Regions from separate parts of the Homo sapiens genome. Here region 2 is linked to region 1. The links come from fine-mapping of genetic effects on gene expression. Tissue or cell type: aorta. Region 1 holds a variant in brackets; the other region holds the start of a gene. All regions are shown on one strand. Distances are between the middles of the regions.

Evidence for each region. PIP is the estimated chance that this variant, and not a neighbour inherited with it, causes the effect.
Region 2: it holds the start of HENMT1, and the variant in region 1 is fine-mapped to the expression of HENMT1 in aorta (GTEx, PIP 0.99).

The regions. Positions count from the first base shown.
Region 1 is chr1:108,707,360-108,715,142 of GRCh38, reverse strand. It overlaps FNDC7 (fibronectin type III domain containing 7), which reads right to left and starts at 2,235. Exons shown (of 13, transcript NM_001144937.3): 1 at 2,147-2,235; 2 at 1,614-1,632. The coding sequence starts at 2,209. The variant C/G (reference allele first, on the strand shown) is at 3,932.
Region 2 is chr1:108,657,499-108,663,857 of GRCh38, reverse strand. HENMT1 (HEN methyltransferase 1) reads left to right here and starts at 2,765. Exons shown (of 8, transcript NM_001102592.2): 1 at 2,765-2,895; 2 at 3,896-3,994; 3 at 6,279-6,359. The coding sequence starts at 3,974. RefSeq lists enhancers at 1,868-2,456, 2,457-3,046 and a silencer at 2,632-2,801.

The DNA of each region.
Region 1 (7,783 bases):
AACCTTCTATACAGTGTAGCTAAAACACATTCTATCTGTTGAAAAGCCGGGACTCAATTAGCAATTGAGTCAATTAGCAGCAGCATCAGTAGCTTAGCCTGACCCACCATTTCTCTAGATTAGTGCAGATGCTATAAACACCAAAAAGGGGCCTGTTCTGAGGGCTTGGTCTGTCCTGGGTGTGCTAGGACCTTGTAAGAGACGGCAGAGTTAGATTCTGTCCACCCAAAGTCGACTTATTTAAGAAGCCGGCCGGGCGCGGTGGCTCACGCTTGTAATCCCAGCACTTTGGGAGGCCGAGGCGGGCGGATCATGAGGTCAGGTGATCGAGACCACGGTGAAACCCTGTCTCTACTAAAAATACAAAAAATTAGCCGGGGGTAGTGGCGGGTGCCTGTAGTCCCAGCTGCTCGGAGAGGCTGAGGCAGGAGAATGGCCTGAACCTGGGAGGCAGAGCTTGCAGTGAACCGAGATTGCACCACTGCACTCCAGCCTGGGCGACAGAGACTCTGTCTCAAAAAAAAAAAAAAAAAAAAATGCCACTTTGTATATGGCCAAGCAGACCCTCCTATAGTTTCCTGGCTAATCCTAAAGATCTCTCAAGAATAAGACAAGTAAATAAGAATAAAGCAAGAGGTGGGGTGTTGCTATGTTGCCCAGGCTGGTCTTGAAATCCTGGGCTCAAGCAATCCTCCCATCTTGGCTTCCCAAAGTGCTGAGATTATAGGCGTGAGCCTTGGTACCTGGCCAGGAAATAGAAATTTTTAAAAACTTACTGTATATGCATGAATTTTATGAAATTTCATGGCTCAGACATGTATCTGTATCAAATTTTTTAACTGTCTTAATTTCACTTCCTTTTCTGTGGTGTAGACAAAATAATAAATAAAAATTTTTCTAATTTATGTTGAATCACTATGAGAATTTATCGGTGATATGGTTGATATTATGTGGTTCCTACAGATAAGTTAACCCTCCTAAAAATAAATTTCCATTCCAGGTACTTAGATTTCTAGCACAAATGAGCTAGGAGGGGCCTCTAGATAAATTATTTTTGCCTTCGGTTATCTACTCAAGAAAGATGGAGATCAACTATTTTTAAAAGAGGGTCCCCTTTCAGCCCTGAGTGACTATTGTCTATATTTCAAATATGCAATATTAGAAGTATAAAGTTCTTTTTAAAGTAGGGAATATTGACAATTTAATCAAATATAACATTTCTCATTTTCCCTCTAATTCCCCGGAAGATAAACAAGAACATTTGTATAAATTAGACTCTGTACAATATCTTAACTGGAATGATGATCATTGTAATATTTCACACATGGCTAACCGTATATGAGAAAATGCATGCCTACATGGCTCTGTACATTATAGTCCTCAGCAAGAACACTTTATGAAGATTTGTCTTTCGAGTTCAATCCATTTATTTGTCTTACCAGTTATTGTCTCCCCAGGACCCAATAGAGTGCTTAGCACCCAGTGTGAGTGCTCAGAAAATATTGAATTTTTTTTTCTCATATAGCCTTTAGATTTCAGGGTAGCCCGTGAATTAACAATGGAAATTAAAATCAAATACGAGAAGGAAAAACTTGCAGGTCAGAAAATTGTACCTGATTTTGCTGAAGCAACCTGAAAAGGAAAGTTTGGAAAATTAGAACCACACAGAAAAACACAACTTGAACAAACGTAAAACATGAATAAAAGCGGTAATAAATTAATCACAACATTTTTACATCTAACGTGAGCAGTCTTTCAATCCATACAAGTATTTCTCCACACAAATCATTTCCCAGCACCCAAATCTACCACAAAACAACTCTAAATAGAATTTAGAGGCTGGAGGCAGATCCCATTACTATTTCATTTTTTTCCCCTTTGAATCTGCCTATTGAACTAAGTCAGTAGCTGCTGACAGATTTTTCAGAAATCTTTGTTCTTAAAATATAATGATAATCTTGTTTTCTTTCTCTAGTATATGGCATTAAATTTCAAACACGCAAACATATACAACCTCGGTACAAACCAAAGTATTCTGATTTCTATCTCCCTATTCCCCAACTCCTCAAAAAAAAAAGGAGAGAAAAATAATGTGTCTTTCTTTTTTCCCCTAAATAGTTGTGGGTAGTTGGAATGATGAACTCACCATTTTAAGACAGATAAGAATGAATCCAATCAAAGGCAAACATGTCTCTCGTCCACCAGCCATCCTGTTGGACATAGTACTCACATGGCACAAAACAAAGCAATCCGGGTCCTCTTTGGCCCCCAGGAGTATAACACCGTTGGTCGCTGGGATGTAGGGCTGTGATGCTGGGAAGAGACCCTAGGAAGTAGCTCCTCCCCTTCAGTGTGGAGCTGACCTGTAACCAGGGGCACTTGGAGACCGGCAGGGACAGGTATTGCAAAGACTGAAAAGAAGAAGAGAGTTGGAGAAAGCCACGGCAAGCGGGCCAAAAAGCTACTGTAACCTTGGTTTCAAAGCAACCTTCTTTTTAAAACAATTTCTGTCTAAATAAAAATTTTAGAAAGCTGCACAGAAAGTTGTTGATGTGGTAGAATAATTATTTTGAACTCGGGGATGCTGACCAGTTTTATTTTTCTTTTTCACCTTTATTTGTTGTTGTTCTTTTAGTTCAAAGTAAGTGATTGGTCCTACTGTCAGGAAGAATTTGTTGCAAAACTTCAACATGGAATATGAAAGGGCAGGAGCATGTCCCTGTACTGAGAAAGATAGTGAGAGGTCCCTGGTGAGCACATTAAATTTATCCATCCCCCGTACCACCCTGCAGTTCCAGTACCTTTTTTTTTTTTTCATTTTTTTAGAGACAGGGTCTTGCTATTTTGCCAAGCAGCCTCCAACTCCTGGGCTCAAGCAATCCTCCCACCTCTGCCTCCTGAGTAGCTGAGACTACAGGCATGCACCACTGCGCCTGGCTAGTTCCTTTTATTTCCGGAGCTGTCTTCCTAGTTCACACTCTTAATAATAATTAGCATTTAATTTAAGAATTACAATGTATAATTTTAACAATGAACAGATACATAAATGAATAATAAACATAATTAATTGGCTTATCTGAAATCACACAAGAATTAAATGATCAAACTAGAGTTAAAACGCATCAGTCTGATTTCTACTTTCAACCAAGATAGGATTACAAAAAAGGGAAAAGAACTGCATTTACCGTCCCTGACTTTAAGATTTACCATAAAGCTAAAATAAAATAGAGACCGGGTGGTATTGGCATGAAGATAGATAAATAGATCAATGGGACAGAGAGTCCAAAAATAAACCCACGCATATATAGATAATTGATTTTCAACAAAGATACAAGGCAATCCAAAGGAGAAAGAATAGACTTTTCAACAGATGGTGCTGGAACAACTGGATAACCATATGCAGAAAACATAAACTTTGGTTCATACCTCACACCACATTAAAAAATGAACTCAAAATGGATCATAGATCTAAATGTAGCACCTGAAACTATAAAATGTCCAGAAAAAAAAACACAAGAGAATATCTTTGTGACTTTGGGTTAGGCAAAGATTTCTTATATACAACACTAAAAGTATAATCCATTTTTAAAATTTGATAAATTTGACTTCATTAAAATGAAGAATATCTGCACTATTAAGGGAATGAAAAGATAAGCCACAGACTGCGGGAAAATATATATCTTATAAAGGACTTGTATTCTGTGTGTGTGTATTCTCAAAACCCAGTAATAGGAAAACAACTCAATACAAAATGGGCAAAAGATATGAACAAACACTTTACAAAAGAAGACATACTCGTGGAAAATAAAGGCATGGAAAAAATCCTCAGCATCACTAGTCATTAGCAGAATGCAGAAAAGGTTTTTTTTTTTTTTTTTGGAGACGGGGTCTCATTCTGTCATCCAACCTGGAATGTAGTGGCGCAATCACA[C/G]CTCACTGCAGTCTTGACCTCCCAGGCTCTAATGATCCTCCCACTTCAGCCTCCTGAGTAGCTGGGACCACAGGTGTGCAGCACTACACCTGGCTAATTTTTGTATTATTTGTAGAGATGGGGTTTCACCATGTTGCCCAGGCTGGTCTCAAACTCCTGGGCTCAAGCCATCTGCCCACCTTGGCCTCCCAAAGTGCTGGGATTATAAGCGTGAGCCATTGCGCTGGGCCCACAGAATGCAAATTAAAACCACAGTGAGATACATACTTATTGGATGTCTAAAATTAGAAGCTGGTCATTGTGGCTGTGCCTGTAATCCCAGCACTTTGAGAGACCAAAGCAACAGGATCACTTGGGGTCAGGAGTTTTGAGAACAGCCTAGGCAACATCGTAGGACCCTGTCTGTACAAAAAATTTTTTAAAATTAGCTGGATGTGGTGACATGCGCCTGTAGTGCCAGCTACTTGGGAGGCTGAGGCGGGAGGATCACTTGAACTCAGGAGGTCAAGCCTGCAGTGAGCCATGATCGCACCACTGCACTCCAGCCTGAGCAATAGAATGAGACCCTGTCTCAAATAATAAATAAATAAATAAATAAATAATAAAATTAGAAAGACTGAGTAAACTAAGTGTTGGCAAGGATGTGGAACAATCAGAAATCTCATACCTGGTAAGAATGAAAAATGGTACGATCATTTTGGAAAATAATTTGGCTGTTTCTTAAAAAGTTAAACACATGCCTCACCATTTCACTCCTAGGTATTGACTCAAAAAAAATGAAAGCATATGTCCATACAAAAACATACAGGAATATTCACAGTAGCATTATTTTTAACAATCCTCAAACTATAAGCAAACCAAATGTCTGTCAGCCAAAATAAGTAATAAACAAATGAAATTTTTCCCAGCAAAAAAAGGAACACACAAAAACATGGATGAATCTCAAAAAAAGTCAGACCTAAAAAAAGAATACAGATGGTTTGAACTAATCATATAAATTTCTAGAAAATGCAAACTACTCTTAAAAACAGAAAGCAAATCAGTGGCTGCCTGGGGATGGAGAATGGCAGGAAGGAGGGATTACAAAAGTGCAAGAGGAAACTCTTGGGGGTGAAGAACATGTTCATTATGTGAACTGTGGTGGTGAATTTATGAGTGTATACATATGTCAAAATGTATTGAGTTTATGTCTTAAATATGTGCAATTTATTAAATGCTACTTATACCTAAATAAAGGTGTTTTCAAAAATCAGTCTAACTCCAAACCCTAAGCTCCTTCCACTAAACCACTCTGCCTTATGAGCTGACTACTATGAATTTAAGGCGTTTCAATTTGTGCACCCATCAAATATATGTTGACATATTGAGGACCTAATGAAGACCAGGAACTATTCAGGACATGGAAGATACAAACAAATCAGAACCCTGTCCTCTTGGAGCATGCACTCTAGCAAAGGAAGGCCAAACCAAGCAGCTAAAGTAATAAAATATGTTGAGTGCTGCTAAATTTTATGAAGAAAAAGTGGAGTGATAGGAGAGAATACAGCTGTTAGGGAAGACCTCTCTGGCAACCAGATGCTTGAGCACAGGCCTAAGGGAAGTGAAGGAGTGCATCCTTTGGAAACTTAGGAAAAGAACATCCAGGCAGAAGGAAGTGGAAGTGCAAAAGCCCTGAGGAGGGAGCAGCTTGGTTAGAACAGCCTGTGCTCTTACGCCCCCAGCAGCAGGGAGTGTTGGTGGTTGACAGCTCCCGCTCAGTCTCTTGCAGACTTGCCCTTGGCTCATGAGAGCTGCCTGGCTCAAAGTCATACCTGCTCCCTGGGCCACCTACATCCAGTGATTGGTGGATAAAGGAATGTTAGTGCTCCTGGCCCGGATTCAGGACAACTCTGGAGGGGAGATCTGGATGGTACACCATGGTGTCCACCAGGGCAACGGAGGCACCTAGGGTGCAACATTTAAAGAACACCCACTCTCCAGTTCGCTGAAGCCCAGAGTTCCAGAAGGGGGCAGCACAAACCCCTCAAGTGGGTCATTGGGAGTGATGGCAAACAGGACCAGTCATGTTCAGTCACTTGTGTGCACAGAGTAGACAGAGAGTTGTATCTAACTTGGATTGGAGTATTACTAGACAAGGGTGATGGAGACCGCAGTAAGGGAGTTAAGAGTGTTTTCAAGGATGTGATTTATAATATTGTACAGTGGAAACTAAGCTGGGTAAGCAAGGAACTGTGGCTTGTAATACCTCACTGCAATGGAGGCTAAAGGGGCTGCAATGGAATGAAAAGTTGGCAGGAGCAATAGAATGGAGGACCCAAGGGAGTTAAAGAATTGTTGGAGAGGATCTTAGAGAAAGTAAGCAGGAAATATAGGAGTTGGTGATTAGAGAATGGGATGCTTGATTGAAATGGAAACCGTGGAGAAGTGCCAGTTATTGATGATGGCCAGGTCTATGATGTAACCATTGGAACTGGCAGCTGAGGTCAGATGGAGGAAAAAAATCATTGGAGGTCAGGAGGTCAAAAAATTGAGAGGTCTGAGTATTGGAAAGATTGTTCAATGGATATTGGAATCACTAAGAATTATGGCAAGAGTGGTGAAAGAGGTATTGAGCCTCTATTAAACTCTATAATTATTAAAATATTAGGGGAGTATCTATTGGGTATGGATGATATAGACAACTGAGGGACAGTAGATGGTGTAATCTGATGACGTGTTTTATAGGACCTAGGGGATTCAGGAAAGAGAGAAAAACAATGGTCTGGAAGTACAATGATTTTAAAGAAATGAGTTAGGAAAGATAATTATTGTGTTAGCAACCGTCTCTGGCTAATGTCAACTTCTTGGTTGTCAAAATAGGTAATGAGTGTTATCGCTGAACTGTTCCATTGGGAAACAATGCAAATAAAGCGGTTGCTTTTGTAATATGAATTTACTTTAAAGCTTTGAATGACTAAATTTACCAGCTGTCTGAAATTCTCGCTTCAGGAATGAGATTCTGCAAAGCAGTGAATGCATGAATTTTGATACTGAAGGGAATGGAGCTAAGACAACCAAGAGGGGAAATAGCTACAAGAGTAAGTCTATTTACACATTATTAGTGTACTAATAAGGTAATATCAGCAAATTTAAGATTAGTAAATAATGCAAAGGCCAGGAGAGGGACTGAAAATAAAAGATAAAGATAAGAGTCTGGAACGGAAGAGGGAGAAAATGTGAGGATGCTCCACACAAGAATCATCCACTTTCCAGACCACACATGCCTGTGTTGATGCTTCCTGACACCCACCCTCCTTCACTAAGCTCATGCGCACTACTTTAGCTTATGTTACTTGGTGTGCAATTCCAGATCTCAGAACTGTGATTAGTCGGGATTAGGTTTTGCTGAGAGTGGACAGAAAACCTATAACAGTGGCTTAACCAGAAGTTTCTTCCTGATATAAAATAGTAGAGGCAAAGCCTCCAGGAGTGGCGTGGCAATTCTATTCCACGGAGTCTTGAGAGACCCAGGCTCCTTTTTCCTCTTTAGTCTGCCATCCCTAGGAGGAGGCCCTCCTTCTTGGTCCAAGATAAAGTTCCAGCTATCACATTAAAGTTCTAAGCAGCAGAATTCAGTGAGAGGAGATAAAAGAGACTAACGATACATTCCAGTAATCTCTATTGGGGAACAATTGGCAGTCTACCACACAAATGAATGAATAAATAAATGTGATCTGGTGCATAGGTAGATCAGCCAAGGGCAGAATTTAAGACATGTAACGGAAAGATATAGAGAGAGGTGGCCAGGCGCATTGGTTCATGCCCATAATCCCAACACTTTGGGAGGCCAAGGCAGGTGGATCACTTGAGCCT
Region 2 (6,359 bases), 51 kb after region 1:
TGGCCAGATAATGTTTTTTTTCTTTGTAGAGACAGGTCTCGCTATGTTGCCCAGGCTGGTTTTGAACTCCTAGCCTCAAGCCATCCTCCTGCCTCAGCCTCCCAAACTGCTGGGATTACAGTCATGAGCCACCTCACTCAGCCCAGGATAACTCTTGATTACCTATTGTGTGCCAGACACCTACACCTGCTGGACTGTAAAAGCTATGAAAGGATCTTTATCTGTCTTTTAAATTCAAACAAGTACTTGATCCATAATAAATACTCTATACACATTTACCAAATAAGTAATCATTTCTCATTTTTTAACTTAAAAAAACCCCCTAACACTCAGAGAGGATGCAACTTCCAAAGGTTATGCAGTAATAGTAAAATCTGGATTTAAGGCCTATTTGACTTAAAATCCACTCTAAAAGACGTTACATGGTCTATAACTCAGTAGGACTTACCTTGTGTACGAAGGAAAGATGAGTTATAATGACAAAATGAGATGACAAGGCTAAGCTATTAGCTGTGGGAAGGAACAGATGGTAGATGACAGCTTGAAGAAGTCAAAATTTGGTGATTGTCCAAGTGTGGGAAGGACAAAAATGGACAGAGCCAAGGATGATTTTTCAGACTCTAATAAGAGTAGGAGGCCAGGAGAATGATGAAATAGGCAAATTTGGAGAGGGAATGGACATGAGGAGCTCAAGTTCATAAATGGGCTAACCAGCAGGGGAGGCAAAAACCCTAGATCCAGGAATGCTGTATAGATGATAGCTTTTATGTTTTCCTTAAAATTTTTGAAACTGTGGTAAATATACATAAAACCACTTTAACAATTTTTAAGTTCAGTGGCATTCAGTGCAACCATCCTATCTACAAAACTTTTCCATCACCCATTAAACAACTCTCAATTCCCTCCTCCTCTCAGCCCGTAGCAACCACCATTCTACTTTGTCTCTATGAATTTGGCTACTCTAGGTACCTGATATAAATTGAATCATGCAGTATTTGTCCTTCCGTGACTGATTATATATCACTCAGCATATCATCATCAAGATTCATCCATGTGGCAGCAAATGTCAGAATTTCACTCCTTTTAAAGGTTGATTTTCCTGAAACTCTGATTGGAAAAATAAAGGCTGAATATTCCATTGTATGTATATCACATTTTGTTTATTCATCCTTTAATGGACATTTGGGTTGTTTCCACATTTTGGCTACTGTGAATAATGCTGTTACGAACTTTGGTGTACAAATACCTGTTTGAATTCCTGCTTTGAGTATATACCCAGAAGTGAATTTATTATTTAAACATTCTATTTTAAATTACATCCTGTAGTAAGGTGTACACTCCTTTAATGAAGTCTGCTAAAACTAGTTTCCCCAAGTCAACAGGAACCTCTCAAACTGTAATGTGAAATTATCACTGAGTGTTTTTTCTTTTTAGACATGGTCTGGTTCTGTCGCCCAGACTGGAGTGCAGTGGTGCAATCATAGCTCACTGCAGGCTCAGATTCCTGGGGTCAAGTGATCCTCCGGCCTCAGCCTCCCAAACAGTTGGGACCACAGGCAGGCACCACCATGCCCAGCTAATTTCTTTTTTTTTTTGGTAGAGACGGGGTCTCACACTCCGGGGCTCAAGTGATCCCCCAAAGTGCTGGGATTACAGGCGGAAGCCACGGTGCCGGGCCTTATGATTGAATTTTTGAAGCTTATTGTTAGTTATGTACTTCTTTACCTATGACACTAGACTCCCCAAAATGCCAAAAACAAGATTGGTGTAATTTATCATTGTGGTACCCTTAAGCTGTCAGCATAGTGCTTTGCATACAGCAGGCGTTAAATGTTTGAAAATACAGTTCCAATATATCATTTGTGGCATATTAATAGGCTATTAATTCAGTAGCAAAAACACCAGCTTTTGCATCTTTCAAAATATAAGTCAATCTTTTTTCCCTAAAGAAGGCAGCTTCGTCCCTCCCCTCACCCCCCTAATACTCTTCCATCATATACAGGAAAGAAAGTACTTATATATATTAAGTGGAGTCTCCAGAGGGAAGGATGGCAGGATACAATAACTTTTCCAAGAGATCAACAGTTCTATCCACAACACTCGGGGAAAACTATTTCGGGGGTCGGGTGGCGGTGGAGAGGGGGCGTTGGGAGCGGAAAGAACGTTTTTCTGAACGCAGGTGTCACTGGGCCAACTTCACCCAGCCTACATTCCTTTAAGGCCCCCGTGGACTGCTCTGGGATGAAAGCGGAGGCTGACTGGGACTCCAGCCGCCGGCCGCCTCGCGTGGAGCCTTGCTGCTCCTCTTGCCGCCTTCCGCTGGCCAGGACCGTTTTTAGGCCTTTGCCACGCCTCGGGAGCGCCACGAACTCAACAGCCGCCCAAGCCGCCTTCCGGCTCGCGGTCTGCGGACGCGCTCGGAGTTGGGGGCCTTCGCCAACAGCTGCCGTACCGTGCCGCGTCGCAGCCGCACGCTAGCGGGGTCAACGGCGCGGCAGGCGCAGGGGTCCTCGCCAAGGTTCGGAAGAGGACCTTGAAAATGGCTTCTGGGCATGCGCCACAGCGGCCGTTACGAGACGCAAAACCGACGCCTTGGAACTGAGAGCCTAGAGGGACGGAGCTCGGCGCACCATGAGGCTCCCGGGGCCCAAGGCCGACCGTGAGAGCGCACGAGGTTGGCGAGCCCCGCGGGGAGGCCGAGGCGCGGGTGCGGGCGCCGGCGTAGCCGCGGCGGTAGCGTCACGCAGCGAGGCCGTGCGTGCGCGGGCGTCAGGGCGGCGCTGAGTTGAGGACGCTGGCGGCTCCGCGACGAGCTTTGTTTTTTCGGTTGGGCATGCTGCTTACCGCAGGATGATGGAAGCGACGGCCCGTACAAAGACAGAAGCGTTGGTTTCAGTGAGCAGGGTTTCTTTTTCTTTTTCTTTTTTTTTTTTTGAGACGGAGTCTCGCTCTGTCGCCCAGGCTGGAGTGCAGTGGCGGGATCTCGGCTCACTGCAAGCTCCGCCTCCCGGGTTCATGCCATTCTCCTGCCTCAGCCTCCCAAGTAGCTGGGACTACAGGCGCCCGCCACTACGCCCGGCTAATTTTTTGTATTTTTAGTAGAGACGGGGTTTCACCGTTTTAGCCGGGATGGTCTCGATCTCCTGACCTCGTGATCCGCCCGCCTCGGCCTCCCAAAGTGCTGGGATTACAGGCGTGAGCCACCGCGCCCGGCCAGGGTTTCTTAATACAAGTTGGTGACTAACATGTTGCCTAGATTCCAGATTAAAGTCTAGTTGTTGGAGACACATGTGCAATAGAGAACTAAAATTTAAATTCAAGTTCGTGAGTGAATTGAATAGATGTTGGAGCATCTCTAGTTTATCAAGGACACTTTTTTTCCCCCTCGAAATTTCATTTTGACGATGTGTGGAAAAATTTTTGAAAAAATTTGAAGTTGAGGGTCTTAGCAATGAAATGGGCAGAACTCCTAAGATTGCTCCGTTTGTATCTAGTTGAACTATTCATGATAGTAAAGGGAAAGGATGGCTGTTTTCGCTCTTAGTAGGGTTTGACGTAGTGAAAAGTTACGCTTTCTGAGCCTGTTTGCGAATGTCTGAAAAAATACTGGATACATTCTGTGGATTAAATGGTAGTCCACATTTAATCCACAGATTGGCTATTGTGAATAATGCTATGAACTTCGGTGTATAAATATCTGTTCGAGTCCTGCTTTCGTGTTTTTTTTTTTTTTTTTGAGTACTCAGAGGTGAATTCATTATTTACTTTTAAGCGTTCTATTTAAATTATATACTGTAGTAAGGAGTAAGAAAGAGGCTTTCGTTCTTCCCTTCTGAACTAGGCAGCTATTTCTTTCAGGTATCGCTTTACAAAAACGGTTTTGTATTTATTACAGCTGAGTCAGTGCTGATTCTCTCAAATAGAGCTTGAAGGATAAATCTTCATTTTTGTTTCAACAAAACTTCGAAACAAAATGGAAGAAAATAATCTACAGGTAATGCCACCCTTCTTAGCTGCGTCTTTGACTCTTAAGAATTATCACCTGGATGTATTGTGAGATAATTGCAAACAAAATTGATCACATTTAGGTCCTAGCATTTCCCGGGGTGTTGGTTGAGGTAAACAAGGGTATACATAGATGAAAGAGTCACATTTGGTGTATGTAAGTAAAATAAATGTTTTTACTTTTATCACTAGGTGTTAAAGTAGCAAAATCTATTTTAAAAACACTCTAAGTAGTGTTCCCCAATGTGGTTGTGTATATGGATCACCTGGGGATTTTGTTAAGTTGCAGATTCTGTTTAAGGAGGTCTAGGGTGAGGCCCAAGCTTTTGTGTTTCTAAAGTTTCTAGGTGAAGATGCCACTGGTTTGGAAACCACATTGGGAGTACCTAGGGTGTAGCTCCCTGCTGTCCAGTAGCTACACATGGCAAGTGGGCACTTGAAATGTGGCTAGTGGAATTGAGGAACCGAACTTTAATTTTTTTTTTTTTTAAGACAGGGTCTTGCTCTGTTGCCCAGGCTGGAATGCACTTGCCCAGTCACGGTTAACTGCAACGCTGACCACCTGGGCTCATAACTTCATTTTTAATTTTAAGTTTAAAATTGGATATTTGATTACATTATTGGAAAAAAGTATGTTTGGAATAACTTGGGTATGTGCATGTATATTTTAAATGTAAAGTTTTTAAATCCAATACAGACAAGTATTTCTGATGAAGGTTTTGGAACTGAGACGCAGAAGTACAAAATATGTAGCACACTGGATTTTGAAGACTTAATGTGAAAAACAAGAATCTAAAATCTCTTATATTGATTTTATGTAAAAATTATATTTTCGATATATTGGTTTAAATATTCTAATTCCGATTATAATTCCAATTCTTGGGCTACAAGAAAGTTGCCTACTTGTATTTTATCTATTGGACAGTGCTACATCAGATATCAAATACCCTTTGGACTACTTTTATAATACTGCTGTATAGGAATAGTAACAGCTATTACAGATTAATCTTATAAATTCTGTTTTTTCTTGGGGTCATGTTAAAGAAAAAATTAGTCTGACTTTATTGAGGACTGTTGCAATAAGAACATTGCAAAGATGAAGAATTTGACCAGATAGGGTGATCAGATATCAGGGGTAGAAGATTCTGTCTAAACTGACTTAGAAGTATTCTTATTAAAACTGGGCTAGGCAGCCCAAAGATAGGATTGGGGCCAGGGTTTGAGGTCTATTCAAGAAGATGGCTCAGAGGAACCTGACTGAAGTTTGGTCAGTGAGAGAGTCTTTTGCTGGTGTGTTGGAATGTTCCTACAGATGCCCAACTACTCAGGAGGCCGAGGCCAGAGGATTGCTTGAGCCCAGGAATTTTAAACCAGCCTGGGCGACATAGTGAGATCCTCTCTCTCTCTTAAAAAGAGTGTTGGCTGGGTGTGGTGGCTTACACCTGTAATCCCAGCACTTTGGGAGGCCAAGGCGGGTGGATCACGAGGTCAGGAGTTCAAGAAGAGCCTGGCCAACATGGTGAAACCCGTCACTACTAAATACAAAAATTAGCCAGGCATGGTGGCGCATGCCTGTAATGTAATCCCAGCTACTCGGGAGGCTGAGGCAGGAGAATTGCTTGAATTGAGGGAGGCGGAGGTTGCAGTGAGCTGAGATCGCGCCACTGCACTCCAGCCTGGGTGACAGAGCAAGACTCCGTCTTGGGGGGAAAAAAAAAATATATATATATATATGTGTGTGTGTGTGTGTGTATATATGTGTGTGTGTGTGTGTGTGTGTGTACATATATATGTGTGTGTGTGTGTATATATATGTGTGTGTGTGTAAGTGTGTGTACATATATGTGTGTGTGTGTGTGTATATATATGTGTGTGTGTATATATATATAGTCAGTCATTATAAATATTTTCCAGCCTCCTGCCTACTTGGACCACAGGCTTTGGCGACTCACTCCACAAAAGGTCCCTTATGGTTAGGAGTCATCTAATTGTTTTCATTGAATACATTCATTGGTAATGTTCCCTTCAGCTGAAACTAAGCTATAGGGAGCATACAGCTAGATTCTCTCTTGTTAAAAGGCATGAGAGGATGCTTACATGAACTGTGGAGGAAATGCAGTGCTACCTAATGATTTTAGGACAAAGGGTATGTGAAGGCCAGTGTGTTTTTCAAAGTGATTGGGGGAAATAAAGTTTTTTTTTTTTTGCCCCTTATTTAATTTCTGAAGTCATGCATGATTTAGAACCTGTCTTTTTTTGTTTGTGAACTTCAGTGCAGTAGTGTGGTTGACGGTAATTTTGAAGAAGTTCCCAGGGAGACGGCAATTCAGTTTAAACCTCCACTATACAGACAG